Linked DNA regions of Homo sapiens: region 2 is linked to region 1. Evidence: fine-mapped expression QTL. Tissue or cell type: whole blood. Region 1 holds a variant in brackets; the other region holds the start of a gene. All regions are shown on one strand. Distances are from middle to middle.

Region 1 (8,108 bases):
CCAGTGCTCATGATCGAACCTCCAGCTGAGAGGCATGAGAGGTAGTGTGGATAGCTTTAATTGCCCCCACCTTTAAAACAATTATTGATGTGTTTATATAGGTATGCTTGTATGTATGAGTTATTTGAGTAGCCAGTCAGAAGCGCTCATGTGGCGAAATTTTTTTAAAGAAATGTCTCACTAAGGCTTTCGTTTTTTTCTAGTTGTATTTTAGTCCATTCTCCCACTGCTGTGAACAAATACCTGAAACGGGGTAATTTATGAAGGAAAGAGGTTTAATTGGCTCATGGTTTTGCAGGCTGTACCAGAAGCATGGCTGGAGAGGCCCCAAGAAACTTTCAATCATGGCGGAAAGCAAAGGGGAAGCAGGCAGGTCTTACATGGCCCGAGCAGGAGGAAGAGAGAGAAGGGGAAGGTGCTACACACTTTTAAACAATCAGATCTCATGAGAACTCACTCACTATCACGAAAACAGCAAGAAGGAAATCCATCCCTACGACCCAGTCACCTCCCATCCAGCCCTTCCTGCAACATTGGGGATTATATTTCAGCACGAGATTTGGATGGAAATACAAATTCAGATCATGTCACTAGTTCTGCCTTGTATTTATAATGTGCGGTAACAGGACAGATCACCTCTCTGTAGTTTCCTCTTCCAGAGCAGCAAGGTGATACAGGTCATCAGAGTCCAGAACTAAAAAACACTGAAGGCAAGATGTAGAGATGGAGAGCACCAAAGTTTCTCTCTCTGTGTGTGTGTGTGTGTGGTTTCATCTATTTTGTTTTAAGGTTTGCTAAGGTTTCCTTGAAGTAAGTAAGATTTTAAAACCTTTACTCGATGCTCCTGCCTTATCCCAGCTCTAAGAAGAACTACTGTTTTCACGTCAATTAAGGAGGACAAAAAAACCTTGCTGCAGGAAAGTAGAATAACTCATCTGGCTAAGTTTCCAAGAGGCTGAGACGGTTATATGGATCTTTAACAGCCCCGCAGCCAGCAGATGGTCAGTTATCACAGGAATAATGCAGACTGGCTGTTCTCTATCCTTTCATGGGCAGTGGAACCTAAATGGCAAAAATGGGTAGATTTTAGGAAAACTACTATATCTGGCAAAGTTCCTTATAGAATCTCACAGAATTAACTCTTTCAAATTAGCAAAGATAGACATGAAAATCAGTTCTAATTCTGTGGGACAGTTTCACGTCCCATATTTTTTCTTTGTTTCTTTCACAATAACCTCTAAGATGGTCAATCTTTGTGAGCAAACATGATAAAAGTGGAAAATTAATATGATAACCTCTCATGAATTATAAGTTATAACTTGGGCTCTATTCAAGGCTCACTCTAACTCATGAAATAAAATGGCATTGCAAAATGTTTTCAAAGAGACATGTCTTTTGTAATCTTAATACTGTATTTCAGTGAAGGTGAAGGTTAGAGGCATGTGTGAACAGGACCACAGTGCATAGCCATTTGTTAAATGAGTAGTTCCAAAGGGTAGGCAAAGGGAGAGAGCTATGCCCTGCCCTGCCCTGCATTGTAAAGGGAGTTATATAAGCCTTACAACAAACATAAGGAAGGGATTATTCTAATCACGGAGACATGGATAGAGTAACTAATTTGCCCATAATAGGTGTCAGAACTGGGACCTAAATCCAGATCTGTTCAACTCCAAGACTGGCCCGTGTGAAATTAAATATGCAGTGATATGTCAGGATATATCAAAAACATGTCATACATGGGCCACATCTTTATATAGGGTCAATTGTGTTTAGTATTTAGTAGTAATTTTAATGTCATTTTATATTAAACAAAATATAGATGTGCTATAGAGTGAAACATAGAATTTGAATGATTTTAAATTCAATTTAGATGTGAGATTCAAAAGAAACTTCATTTTTGAGGCAAGCCATTTCAAGTTATGTTCCCAGAGTCTTGAAATGTTGTACCTCTTACTTCTCCCACAGGAGTTACTTAAGTAGAAACGTTTGAGAAACCAATACCTGTCCAATGAAACCACCTTAGATTGGTCCAGTGGTCAAGCTCTTTGTCAAGCTGGATCTAAGCAACCATTGCAGTAGTGACTTATGATGGCCTGTGGAGGGCTGTAGCCTCAAAACACTCAACCCTTGCTTGTAAAAAGTAATTATTTTATTTTGCAGGAGGCTGTTATTGAAAATCGAGCCCTGTGGATGATGATTAAAAGATGTTTCGGCTATCAGTCAAAAAGCCAGTATCGGATATGGCAGAGGGACTTGGCAAATGACCCTAGTTGGCCCCCGCTAAACCAAACCTCCCACTCTGACATGCCGGAGTGTGGCAGAGGAGTGTCTTACAGCAATCCAGTATTTGAGAGCAATGAAGAACAACTCTGAAGGACATGTGATATCCAAGTTGATATTACAGAGAAACAATGACAAAAGGGACCAGTTTCATTGATTTTAAGAAATGAGACTCTTGTAACATCAGCTGGAGTTTTGGGGCTACCTATCAAATCATGGTGACAAACTAAAGTCTGTTTGATAAAATACTGTCTACAGAGAAGAACATTGACCCAGAAGAGTGCTTTCCTCTTGGCTTCTGAAGGTATTAGAGGCATTCAGTGAAGGCAAGAATGGGCCAAGAATTTCTATGGGCCAAGAGACAAGCAGGCTAAAGGGGAAAAATATGTGATCTTTCCTCTTAGGACAGGACAATACTTTCCTTTTTATAAAAATGAGTTGAGGGGAAGTAGTACTGTGTATACTCACGGAGTTGTAATTTTTGAATTTTTACTTCATCGATGGAAAAACTAATGCGTGGGAAACATTACACCAATCTTTACTGTCTGGGTTCCTTTTCTCTGTAGTACTTTTCAGATTTGAGGCTTTTTCTTCTGTTTCTGGCCTTACCCAACATATTGTTAAGGATAAGCTTAGCCTATGCTGCAATAAAAAACAACTCTCAGATATCAGTGCCTTAACACACAAGTGCTTCTTTCGTGATCCAGGTGACACTCTGGAACTGCCATTCTTACAGCAGTGACTGCTTCAACCTGATGGCTCCATCAGCTCGATGCAAGGACTGTGTGTTGACTGTGATGGGGGAAGGAATAGACTGGAGATCACGTGTGGGCTCTTCACTGCCTCACCCCAAAAGTGGCACACATTGCTTTCCCTACTCATATCTCATTAGTCAAGGATTTGGCCAGGGAGCTGGAAAGTGCAGTCTCCTGTGTTTAGGGATGCTTCATGGGCTTATGAGCTGTCACTACACAGGGCCCCATGCTTAGAAGGTCCCCACACTTGGCTTTAACACTCTGCTGTTTCCATCTTAAAATTCTTAATTTTTGAACAGGGGTCCCCATATTTTCATTTTGTACCAGGCCCCACAAATGATAGAGTTGGTCTGGAACGTAGTCCTGGGAAGGAGAGGAAAATAACAGATCAGAAAGCACGAGTGCTGTCCACTACAGCCCACTTTTCCTAACCCCAGTAACTTATCCTATGTTTTAGGAATCTCTCATGTCACATGGCCAACTCCAGAAATTTTCACTCCTCTGCTTTATTATTTTTGAGAAACATTAGTCTCATGCTACAGCATTATATGGCACTATTGATGGGAGTTCTTACACAACTAGTACATTTTTTTTTTAAAGTTTGTGGCTTGAGTTTCCAGAAAACTAAAATTGTCCTTATTTTGTCACTATTACAATTTGGTTATATTTGATTTGTTCAGCACAAGGAAGACTCAGGTTTCTGTTACCTCAGGAGACAACACTGAACTCTAGGAGCACACCTACATATAATATTTTAAGGCAAAAGCAAAATTTGTATTATGAGCATCAAATCCTAGGTGAATGTTCTGATCAGGGGATAAGTGTCCTGGCCCAGGCTGGCTTTGGAACTTATCAATAGCATTTGCAAGCATTCCTTCCCCCTAACTGAGCTCTTGAGCATGGCTGATGGCTCTATGATTGCAGCTGATTCTAGGAACATGGTGTCTCCCAGCCATGAGGGTACCCTGTTACTTCTGGTTTTAAAATAGGGCGTGAAGATATTTTAGTGTTTCAAGACTGCAGAATCACTGTCTTTTT[TG/G]GTACAGAAAGAAATGTTTCCTTTTGCAAAGCCAGCCTCAGCAATGATATGGCAGTTCTGAATGTCCTTCTCTAAAAGTGTTTCTCATTTTCCAAAAGTAGAGGGTTGTAGGCAGGGGCAAGCTAGAGATGGTCTGTGACCTAGTCATGAGCAAGATCAGCCTGCACAGTTCATACTTAAATGTGCCCTTTGCTAAGTGCATTCACCTCCACTAACTCACCTGAATGGTACCAATTGTCCCATGACTGAACAAGGAAGGGCTTATCATCTCCACCATACAGATGAGAAAGCTGAGATTCAGTAATGGCAAGAGCAGATCTAGGCCTCAAATACAGATCTTCTGAGCAAACCTTATATTGCTGCCAAATACTTCCAAATTCCAGAGTTCCAGCAGGGCAGGTTGCTTAGTGTGATCTCACAGTCAAGCAAAGAATGGGCAACCCTTTGCTAATACCAGGCCCTCTGTTCAAATGAATGCCAGGCATCCTGCCAGGCCTGGGCTAGAGGTGTATTAAAAACAAAACAAAACAAAACAAAAAAATGATTGTCTGTCTTTCTGAGACTTTGAGTTGCTCTTGCCTTGATCCTAAGTGATTCTATCACTAGCAAAGGCTGGCAGGGAACAGGAAGAAAAGAATCTAGTCCTCCACTAGTCAAGCAGCCATAAAATCTTTGGGAAAAGAGACTCATTTTGAAGACTGTATTCCTGGGATTAACTACATCTTAGAAGCAGTAATTGAAGGAACAGGGAGTGCCCAGCCTGGAAAGAAAACAGTCAGGGGACTGTGAAGGGTTTTCCTGAGAAAGAAGGATCCTACTTGTGCCAGGTGGCATGAGAAGGCAAAATCAGGACAAATGGGTAAAGATCACAGTGGGGATGGCTTCAGGCCATCTGCCCTAACCACTGTCCTAACAGCCAGCACTGATAGCAGTGGAATGTACTCTAGGACATTGGAGGAACAAGTGGCTATTCAAGGGCCAAGTAGAGAAGGAAGTCAAGTATCAGATGAAACTCAATTACCTGCAAGATCTCTTTCAAGCTTGATACACCCAGTGTCTCAGTCTTATGCTGTGATGTGAACCTTTTTTTTTTTTTTTTTTTTTTGAGATGGAGTCTCACTCTGTTGCCCAGGCTAGAGTGCAGTGGCACAATCTCGGCTCACTGCCAGCTCCGCCTCCCGGATTCACACCATTCTCCTGCCTCAGCCTCCCAAGTAGCTGGGACTACAGGTCTGCCACCATGCCCGGCTAATTTTTTGTATTTTTAGTAGAGATGGGGTTTCATCATGTTAGCCAGGGTGGTTTCAATCTCCTGACCTCGTGATCCGCCCGCCTCGGCCTCCCAAAGTGCCGGGATTACAGACATGAGCCACCAGATGTGAACTATTTTCTACTACTACCCACACAGAATACCAGACAGACACTCATGGGAGGATGGGCTCTGGAGGGAGGGCTCCCAGCCTTGTCAGATCCGATTGTGTGGACATATAGACTCAATTGCCCTGTACCTTGAAAGGGGACCCCTAATGGAGATAAGATCCTAGGAAAGAGGGGCAGAGTAGGGGTCCTGATTGTCAGATTGAAGCTGGGGTAATACTTCTGATTTGTGAATTTTCTTAAAGAGAGGTGTTAAAAAACTTTGCATGAAAGAGCGTGGGAGAGTGCCCTAAACTTGAGGGCGGAGCAACCTGTTATCAATACACTTTCTTGAGCAGAGTCTGAAGGAGAAACGAACACAGTCACATAGTCCAAATCATTTGAGACGGTGCCCTGTATGTTCATCTCAAGGCATCTAGCTCTTACCCACAGAGAACCGTGACTCTGGGCTTCCCTCACTAAATATGTCTGTGACATCTGTATCCTTATGTGCTTATGGAAATGTTCACATACACACCTGCAGATGTGATGACTGAAAAAAACGATTATTTATTCAGAGCTTTGTATTTAGTTTATGCTATAATAAATTCAGTTGTTATAAAAATCAGTCTCTCTCTCTGCGGTGGAGTCTTTCATTCTGTCTAATGGTGTGGTTTACTCCAGTAATGTTGAATCAAACAACATCTTTACAAAGTTCCAGGCATTTTCTAACACCACAGATGCTATTATTCTCTGCTTTATACACAGGGCATTAGAGTTTACAAAATACTTTCATCCTTGTTCTCTCATTTAAGCCTCGTTAACAACCTTAGGAGGAAAGAAAGGCAAGGATTACTGTCTCTCTTCTTTTGATGAGGTACAAGGCTCTCCAGATGTCTCAGCAACCAGGACACATGGCCCATGGATGGAGGAGCTGGATTCAGATGCAGGTCCTTTATCAGCGAGATCCCTGCTGTGTCACTCTCCTATGTTGTTTTTCCTGAATGAAAAAAGAAGAGAAAAACCGTAGCATTGAAAAACAAGACGACAGCGAGGCAAATGTCCAATGTAATTGCCATAATGAGCACAGTTTCTTCCAGAAAGAGATTTTGGTGTTTCATGGAAGTTCTCTTGAACCTGACCATCAATCACAGAAAAGGCCAACTCCCACAGCTGAGGGAGGAAAATCATAACACCAGAGCCCTGTGAGCCCATTTCATGTGATTGGATAAAGCTCTGGTTTCTGACTTCAGTCTCCAGAAACAGAAAACTATATCCCTGCTTGATCTTTATTCAGACTTGCTTGGCACAGCTTTTCAGGTTCCTATAGATTTTCTTTTGGCTTTGAACTGTGCTCACTTCTCTATGCATAAACATTTGGAAAACTGCTGCCCTATAACATTCTGTCTGCCCTTTGGTTTCCATTAGACTTGTTAACAATGGCCTTTAAACTTTATTAGTAAAGTGAGTTTCTCCAAAATTAAACAAAGATAAAATTAACAACAAAACACAACTCTCCCGGAGTTGATGAAAGAGCCTTAGGAGTGAGCCACATGGCTTTGTCAAACACTCTGAGCTTGCTCTATCCTCAGGAAGACTGCATTTGCCATCCTCTCTGCCTTGAATGCTGCCCGCCACCAACCCCCTGTTGCCATTCCTGATTCCTTCTCCTTCAGATTTCAGCTCACTTGTCACTTCTTCCAAGAAGCCTTCCCTGACCACTCTGTCTAATGTTGCTCTTGCTCTACTACCGTGGTTTGTTTTCTGCATAATGCCTGTGCCACCCTTCAGATGACCAAGGCTGAACGAGTACTACTTGTTCAAGAACCCATAATGGGGAAATGAATGAGCTGAGTCTATAATCTAGACCTACTGACTTCCAAATCAAGGTTCTTTACATTTTTCACATCTAGCCAGATTCTGCTAATTAAATTAGCTAATCTGTCAGGGAAAAGAATGCAGGATGCTGCAGAGCATTGTCCATGGTTGGATGAAAAGCACTCAAAGAGTCATCCAGACTCTCCCAGCTCTTTTCCTTGCTGTCTTGACTTCGAAGTGTTTCAATGCCAAGAAAAATCTGATAAGTCACTGACCTGTGATAAAGGCTGCACACATACTTACCGTGGACATTCTGCTGAGTTTAAAATTGTGGTTAAAGGGGGTTACACTGCAGAGAGGTCTCACATGTGTTGTACGTATTTCACACTGTACAGTCCTAGGAGGCACCATTCATATTGTGCTGCAAGCCCAGGGTGATGGTTTTGCATCATATCGAGGAAGTTTTGTGGGTAAATGATGGCTTTTACCTTTGTAATTACAAACACATATATGCAATGAAAAGTCCCACCTGGGCCTGCTACAAGCAATTCCTAAGTCCTAGACCCTCTCTTGGCAGTGTCTCTTGTGCAGAACTTCCTCTCCTCTAAGCCCTTGGTTGTCACCACCTGCCTGATTACAAGAGCCTCTTAAGTAGTCTCCCTGACTGAGATCTTTCTTCTATTTTTTCTTCTCGAAGTCTCTATCTATTCTATTGCACAACTCTGATGATGTCATGTCCATGGCCAGAAACCCTTAATGGTCTGAAGTGTCTACCAGATAAAGTACACATTGCTTACTAAGGATTTCAAGTCCTTCTCCACTGGCCACATCTGGTTTCATCTCAGATCTTTTCCCTTATT
Region 2 (8,108 bases), 160 kb after region 1:
TGATGTATATGTGCTATGGTTTGAATGTTTGTCTCCTCCAAAATGCATGTTGAAACTGAATGTCTAATGTGGTAGTATTGAGAAGTGGGGCAGGCCTTGAAGAGGTGGTTGGATCAGGAGAGCTCTGTCCTCATGAATGGATTAATCTATTCATGGATTACTGGATTAAGGAGTTCATGGATTAAAGGATTATCATGGGAAGGGAACTAGTGGCTTTATCACAGGAAGAGAGACCTAAGCTAGCAAGGTAGCATACTCAGCCCCCTTACCATGTGATACTCTGTACCACCTTGGGACTCTGCAGAGTCTCCACCAACAAGAAGGCTCTCACAAGAAGTGGTCCCTTGACCTTGGATTTCTCAGCCTCCATAACTATAAGAAATACATTAATTTTCTTTATAAATTACTTAGTTTTTGGCATTCTGTTATAAATCTGTTATAACAGAAAATGAACTAATACATTAGTTTGATTATTTCTATAATGTATGGATAGATTAAAACATCACGTTGTACCCCATAAATATAAATCATTGTCAATTTAAAAAAAAAAAACAAAATGAGATATCATTATACATCTAACAGAATAGCTAAAATAAAAAACAGTGACAACATCAAATGTTGACAATGATGCAGAGTCATCATTGTCATTAACTGGATCACTCATTCACTGCTGGTGGGAATGTGTAGCTACTCTGGAAGCAGTCTGGCAACTTCCTTAAAAGTTTAGCTTGTAACTACTATATAATCCAGCAACTGTACTTCTAGGCATTTACCCCTGAGAATAAAGACAATGAAGATTTATAGCCACCCAAAAACCTGCACACAAAAGCTTATAGCAGCTTTATTCATCATATCCCAAAAGTGGAAACAACCAAGATGACCTTCAAAGGGTGGTTAAAAAAATTAAAAAATAAAAAACTGTGTGCAGGCCTACCATGGAATACTACTTAGGAATAAAGGAAAAAACTATTGACATATGCGACAACCTGAATGTACCTCTAGAGAATTATACTTAGTGGAAAAAATAAAAACACACAATGCCAAAGGGTCACACACTATATCATTCCATTTTTATAACATTCTTGAAATGATACAATTATTTAAAAAGATAGTGAACACACAGTGGTTGCTATGAGTTAAGGAAGTGGAGGAGGCAGTGGGAGGGAAGTAGGTGTGGCTATAAAAGGCCAACAAGTGGGATTCTAGTGGTGACAGGTTGTTCTGTTAGACTGCGAGCTGATTATTGTGGTGACCATTTTACAGATGAGGAAACTGAGACTCAGATGAGTTAAGTGCCAGACCTAAAGTCGCACAGGTAGTAAGCGACACAACTGGAATTCAATTTCAGGTGTCCCTTCTTATTCCAGAGTTCATGCTCCTTTTTTATACCATTGATTAACATCATTAACCAAAGGAATTTCTACTAAGCAACATTTCATTTTTTCCCCTTCTCAAATACTATTAGATGGAGCAGCTGCAAAAGCATGCAAATACATATTTCATATAACACCACAGGAAGTTTTTAAATATTCATATGCAGAACCAGAAGATAATGTGAAGTGGAACCTCGCTCCAGAATCCCTGCACCTTTCCAGTTGCGGAGTTTCCGGGTGAGGTTAGAATATCTCTAAGGTGCCCAGGCTCAGATTTTAGGCAAATATCTGTAACCTGTCTGATTGGGTAAGTTTTACATGGACCACATCTACCAATTTCATTCAGACAAATTGTGTAATGCAGTGCTTCATAAGTATGAGAAAACACAGAACCAATTAAAGACACATTTATAACATCCTCTACTACAATCTTTAAGGTAAAAAAATGCTTCATTTTGAGTCCATCTGCAAAGAACTGTATGAACAGTTTATAATAAAGAGTGGCATGAAGGTTAAGTCTGTAATCTTTGTATAAGAAATTTCCCATTTCAACTGGCCAACTGGCAAAACAGGCTGCTGTCTTTATAGCTCTCTGTTGGTCCCTGGGGATGCATCAAAATAAATAAATGTTCCCTGCCGATAGGGACAGGCTGAACGTCTGCTCATGCCTAAGAGGCCACCCAAGTTACAGAAACACGAAGAGCACTTTTTTAACAACTACTCCCAAGAATGTTACTGGAAGTCTGAAACACAATCGCAGGTGATCACAGGCTACCCCTGGCCCAAGGCTTCTAATTAGGTTTCGACCTTTTCCCATTCCAGCTGCACTTTCCATCCATAATCCTCCTACACTGTGATGTTTCCATGAAGCCCTGTATTCCCAGATTGGCTAATTCATAGACTCTCAGTGCTGCAAAGATCCTTGGTCCAACACTCTCACGCTACAAAGGAGGGTTCCACTCCTTGGCCAAATTAACTATCCGCTGCCACAGCACTGTCATGCCTTGCTTGGAATCTTCCAGGGCTTCCCACCACTGACTCCCCATCTTGGTCCCCCGCCCTAGAATCCTGGCATCCTTATTAATCTCTACATTCTAGGCAAATCAAACTATCCATTATTCTTCCCACTCAAGAGTATTGTTTTGTTTTTGTTAATACTGAACCTTCTACCCAGAATGCCCATTTCCAAGTGCCCCAAATGACTCAATCTTAAAAAATCCAAGTCGATGCCACCTTCTCCCCCTCTCTCCTCCACTCCCCAGGTCGGATTGTCTTCCTCCGATCCGCCTTCTTTAGCTTCCACAGGCATCCATCTAATGGCCCATTCACTTCCTACACCTGCCTCAGCTACTGGTCTCTGGGAAATTGTCTCTTGTGGGGCATACGCTATGGAGGGATGCTTCTTGTTTTTCTCTATACCATGCGTCCGATCTTTTGGCTTCCCTGAGCCACACTGGGAGAACTGTCTTGGGCCACACATAAAATACACTAACTCTAATGATAGCTGATGAGAAAAAAAAAAAAAGCGCAAAAAAAAAACCTCTCATAATGTTTTAAGAACATTTACAAATTTGTGTTGGGCGGCATTCAAAGCTGTCCTGGGCCGCACGCGGTTAGTGAGCCACGGGTTGGACAAGCTTGCTCTATACCTTCAGTCTCCGGTGAGAGTGCCTCGCACAAGTAACTGCGGAGCAAATGTTCATTGAATGAAGGAATGAGGAATCCAAGCCCAGAGAAAACATGAGTGACTTTTTCCAGCACGAGTCATATTAATAGTCTCGCATGCCAAAGGAATATCACCATCCAACTTTCCAAAATCCAATACGATAATAATTACTTGTATTATTATTCATATTCACTTCAGTGAGGACAGTAGGCTTAAAAAGCCTTAAACAGGTTGGGTTTCTAGTCCCAGCTCTGCCACTTAATAGCTGTGTAACCTAGGGAAGAAAGTCTCTTGCCCTGTGGACTGAGTTCCCCAGTCTGTGAAAAAGAGGAGGGTGGATAAGCTCCGTTGTTCTCTAGTCATGTCAACTTTTCCCACTTGCCAGTTGGTTAGAACACGGTTGGTTGCCGGGGCGCCTCGAGGTCCTCCCCCACTCCGCCCAGCACACCTCACTCTCAAGCCGGGGTCTTCTTCTCGCACCGGGAGGCAGCTGTGTGTGTCCTGGGGTCTCTCTTGGCCTCGCAGCTGCCGACCTTGCCGCCGGCGGCCGCGGGACGACTCCATCTGTACCCGGGAGACACCCGGGAGGCAGGCGCCAGCCATCACTCGGGGCCGTCCTCCAGGGCCAACGCCAGCACCAGCGCCGCCACGCTGAAACGGTCCCGGCGGCCCCTCCGCGGCTCTGAGACGCCCGCACGCCGGGGGGCCGACGCGCTGGGCTCGGCGTCCGGGCGCTGCCGAGCCGGCACGAGGCTCTGACCATGGGGAGCCGCCCGCTCCGCCCAGGAGGCGGGGCACAGTCGCTCCGGCTAGACCTCGCTTGGCCCCGAGCCCAGCTTCGCCCGCCCGCCCGCCCGCCCGCCGGGGAACTGCACCTTCTCGCGCCCCGACGCAGCCGCCTCCGCGCGCGCACGCAACGCACGCGCTCCAGCGCCTACGGTCAAAGCGCCGCGCAACCAGTTATTCCGCCCCCGGCTCCGCACCCGCGTCTCGGACGTTCCCGCAGCCAACGTTTAGGGCACCAGGCGCTGTGCTAGGCGCCGCGGTTATAAAGATAATCGGTTTTGTTGAGCCCAGGAATGTTCGGGTACACCCATCATGAGTACACCCACTCTTCTAGCCTAACAAAAATTCCCTTAGGGCCCAAGGAATCATGGTACCTGCACCCCAAGAAAGCCTCTGGGTCTTTGAGTCAGCAAAGTGGCGGAGGAAGGACTGGCCCTAAAACAACCTCACTGCTTACACACACCACACCACACACACACACACGCCAGATAGCCAGCAGAGACCTCCAACCACACACACACACACACACACACACACACACGCCAGATAGCCAGCACAGACCTCCAGACCCCGCCCCGCCCCCCTCCCCCGGCCCCCCTCCGCCCCCACGCGCCAAATAGCCAGCAGAGACCTCCAGGATATGGCTGTGAGTTTAAAAATAAAGCTGGGGCAGGGAGAGTATCCTTTTTCTCACTGCTAAAAAAAGAGGCCAGGAATACTAACCTAGCTAAGTAAGGAACCCTTGAAGACTAAGTGAACTTTATGGAGCGCTGCACAGGACGTTGCTTCAACCTAGTCATAACTTAGATTTTTATTCTGATGTAAATGGAATCTCAGCTAAAAGGATTTTTTCCCACTTATTTGAAGGCTAAAAAATATCTCGCTAATTTTATGTATTTTGTCATAATGGGATAACAACTACCTAAATATGCAACTTTTTTCGTAAAGCTATTGGGTTGTGTTATGAAGGTTAAGGGTGAATCTGAGTGATCTGAAACTTTGGGTCTGGATTGGCACCTTTGGAAACAGTCCACAGAAGGACATTGAAAACGTAATTATTGACAAAGTGGAAACTAGAACACTTGAGAAGTTGTAGCTTTTTTTATGCATTAATATTTTCTTACATGTTCCTTAATATATATCCAGAGTTATAAGCTGAATCAGATATGCCTTTCAATACCCTTTTAATGTCTCAAAGAGAAAGCCATAAACATGCATTTGCTTTATGTTTCTCAACTATTTCGATGGAGTCATCACTGTAGGAAGTGGTTCATGATTTTATACAGGAGAGGTATTGTGAGCATTTATAAAGCCATCCTGCTTATGAGCCAAATTTATTATGTTTGCTAGGTTAATCTGTTTTCTCTAATCAAACACTTAATCATCCAGTCTCCTCTCTGCGTTATGGATTCATGAATGTGAAGTGAGGAGAGTTGCTCAGTCAAGGTAAAATGATAAATTATCTTTTCATTTTCAGGGTATTTGTGATTAAATGCTTCATAATAGAATTAAAATGAAATAAATCTTGTAATTTCACTTCTAGATTCCTGCCAGGTATAGATAAAACGCATTTGGTTAAGAACAAATTCAATTCAATGCCTGCGTGGAATTTATAGGAGAAATGTAGAAAGCGTTGTAGTTCAGGAGAGCCCTGAGTTCTCTCTTCATTTCTATGGATTGGAGAGAGAGTTGATCAATCGGTGGTACTCTACGGATGAGCAGTGGAAAATTAAAATTTCCATTAAGAAAGAATGAGGACTTAGCCTTGGGCAGTAATAGGCAAAGTTTGTCTTAATCTAGAGTTGTAATCTGGGGCTATGATTGGAGCAGATGTTAAATTACACTTAAATAAACAGTTCCTATTATTTTGGCCATTATAAGTGAAGCCCTGTGTGGCTGGCATTCTCTGTTGCTGCCTAATTTTATAGTAAGAGTTGAAACATATTGAAAAAAGCATAATGGAGATGACTTAGTCCTGTTTGTTGTTGAGTGAATAAAGTTCACATTCCAGAAAAAGCCCTATAAGGTAACAAAAATTACAATTGGCTTTTTAACACATGGAAACTCAAACCAATTGGCATTGTGTGATATTAGACAGAGGCCTCAAACAACCCTATATGTTTTGTGCATATTTTACAATTAGCAAAGCGCTTTGATTCTGTTGTCTCATTTGATCCTCTCAGCAAACTTGTGACTGCTCAGTCCTGGCAGTTGGTGTGAGGCCTGAGATGTGGAGCTCTGTATTCCAGTTCTCCTGGGGTAGAACTGAAGTCAGGCCTCTTAGGCAAGAGCTCTTCCCCTACCCAGACTCCCTCTTTTATCAGACAGCAAAAGAAAAACCTTTTTTTTAATAGGTTTTCAAAACCACAAAAATAAAAGAGCTGCACAAATAACTGAAATATTTGCCAAGATAATGCAGAGATGGTTGGCTACGTTTTATGTGAGCTAGTAAGAGTTGAGACAATCATTCCAATAGTTCCAACCTCAGCCCCTAAAATCTATGCTGTAAAAGTAAAAGCTTTTTTCTTGACTTGAATGTCCAGGCCACCTGCCTGCTCAGACTGGATTTTTTTCCTGTACAAATTACTTAACCCTCTAATTCAATCTGCTTTGTGTATTTCTGGTCAATATCATTGCAACTGAAAATCTGTTTGCTTACAGGTTTTTCACGTACTGCACATCCAAGCTAGGTAATGTCTCTGCAACTGCTGCTTCCTGATGATTATATTCATCTGAAATGACTAAGCTTGGTAAATTAGGCTAAGTCAAGTCTGTGGAGCAGTCAAGGGACGAATGAAGAAAAGAATAATGTAATGGAGGCTACACCAGAGACATGGGAATCTATCAGCATGTGGCAAGGAAGGAAGAACATAGCTATGTCTTCTATATAAAGAGTTGCCTGCATTCTTCTCAGAAAAAAAAAGACAATGGAAAGGCAATGAGTCATGAGTCTTGGGTTCTAAGCCTGGTTCTACCATTTGCTAGCTGTATGATAAGAAGCATGTTTGTTAAACCTCTGAGCCTCAGCTTATATATATACGAAACAGGAAAAATAGTAACATAGCCTGCCATCTTCACAGATTTGTGAAAAGGTCTTTTAAATATCCAAAAAGCTTAGTATGTATAAGAAAGATTAAATTGGCTGGGCGCGGTGGCTCACGCCTGTAATCCCAGCACTTTGGGAGGCCGAGGCGGGCGGATCACAAGGTCAGGAGATCGAGACCATCTTGGCTAACACGGTGAAACCCCGTCTCTACTAAAAATACAAAAAATTAGCCGGGCGCGGTGGCGGGCGCCTGTAGTCCCAGCTACTCGGGAGGCTGAGGCAGGAGAATGGCGTGAACCTGGGAGGCGGAGCTTGCAGTGAGCCGAGATTGCGCCACTGCAATCCGGCCTGGGCTAAACAGCGGGACTCCGTCTCAAAAAAAAAAAAAAAAAAAAAAAAAAGAAAGATTAAATTTAAGCTATGGGTATGACACAAAAATATACTTGAAAATTATTCTTAAATTTCACCATATTTAGGAAGTGGCTAAATATCAACATAATATTCCTACTTCTGCATTTCCTATTTCTCTCTTTGCATTTTAAATTCAGAGGAAGTTATCTCATTTATTAATTGTAACATTTAAATAGTATACATTTCTGTCATTTAAAAGTGGTACTGACAATGTAGTTAAACCTTTATTATCTTTTATTGGTTTAATAAATAAAAGTGCATGACTAAAAACAGGCCACAAATATCAATGATTTTGGGGATTTCGCCCTACAGGAAAATCATACAATGCATTTGGAAAAAGGTAATTCTGACTTGTCCTCTACGAAATGCTAAATTTCTGCACAAAAGCTTAAAGCACAAGTGTTTACAGGATTCTTGGTGACAAGAAAAGTGATAGTAAATGTGCTTTAGCACTAAAATTCATGTATCCATGGAAACCTGTGAAGTTCTGTAAGCACACACACACGGCCTGCGGTATTTATTGAAGAGCTAAGACAGCGATCAGTGGGTTACTATGCTGTGAAAAGCCGACAGATTGCTGGGAGCTGCTATGCACAGGCATGGATGAGGTTGTTTTTCCCCTGCTAAATGTAATTACAGAGGAATTCAGAAGTCTCAGATATTACTGAGAAAAAAAAAACATGTTTATTTATTTATATGTACTTGTACCTTTCAGAATACAGTGTCCTTTTTTTACAGTGTCAGATTTTTTAGTCAGGAAAGCCTTGAAAAGTCATCAGCATTTCCCTTTCCCACACATTTGTAGCCATAGTCAAAAACTCTCTAG

Evidence for each region. PIP is the estimated chance that this variant, and not a neighbour inherited with it, causes the effect.
Region 2: it holds the start of PLAAT1, and the variant in region 1 is fine-mapped to the expression of PLAAT1 in whole blood (INTERVAL, PIP above 0.99).

What each region holds. Positions count from the first base shown.
Region 1 is chr3:193,396,917-193,405,024 of GRCh38, reverse strand. It overlaps ATP13A4 (ATPase 13A4), which reads left to right. Exons shown (of 30, transcript NM_032279.4): 30 at 2,161-6,058. The coding sequence ends at 2,373. Among named protein-coding and RNA genes, the nearest start is that of ATP13A5, 22 kb to the right of the region's middle. The variant TG/G (reference allele first, on the strand shown) is at 4,074.
Region 2 is chr3:193,236,913-193,245,020 of GRCh38, reverse strand. It overlaps PLAAT1 (phospholipase A and acyltransferase 1), which reads right to left and starts at 3,799. Exons shown (of 4, transcript NM_020386.5): 1 at 3,488-3,799. It overlaps MGC2889 (a long non-coding RNA gene), which reads right to left and starts at 3,242. Exons shown (of 1, transcript NR_026877.1): 1 at 1,049-3,242. It overlaps LOC105374280 (a long non-coding RNA gene), which reads left to right and starts at 3,998. Exons shown (of 3, transcript XR_924833.3): 1 at 3,998-4,126; 2 at 5,176-5,271; 3 at 6,487-8,108. RefSeq lists a silencer at 3,648-3,897.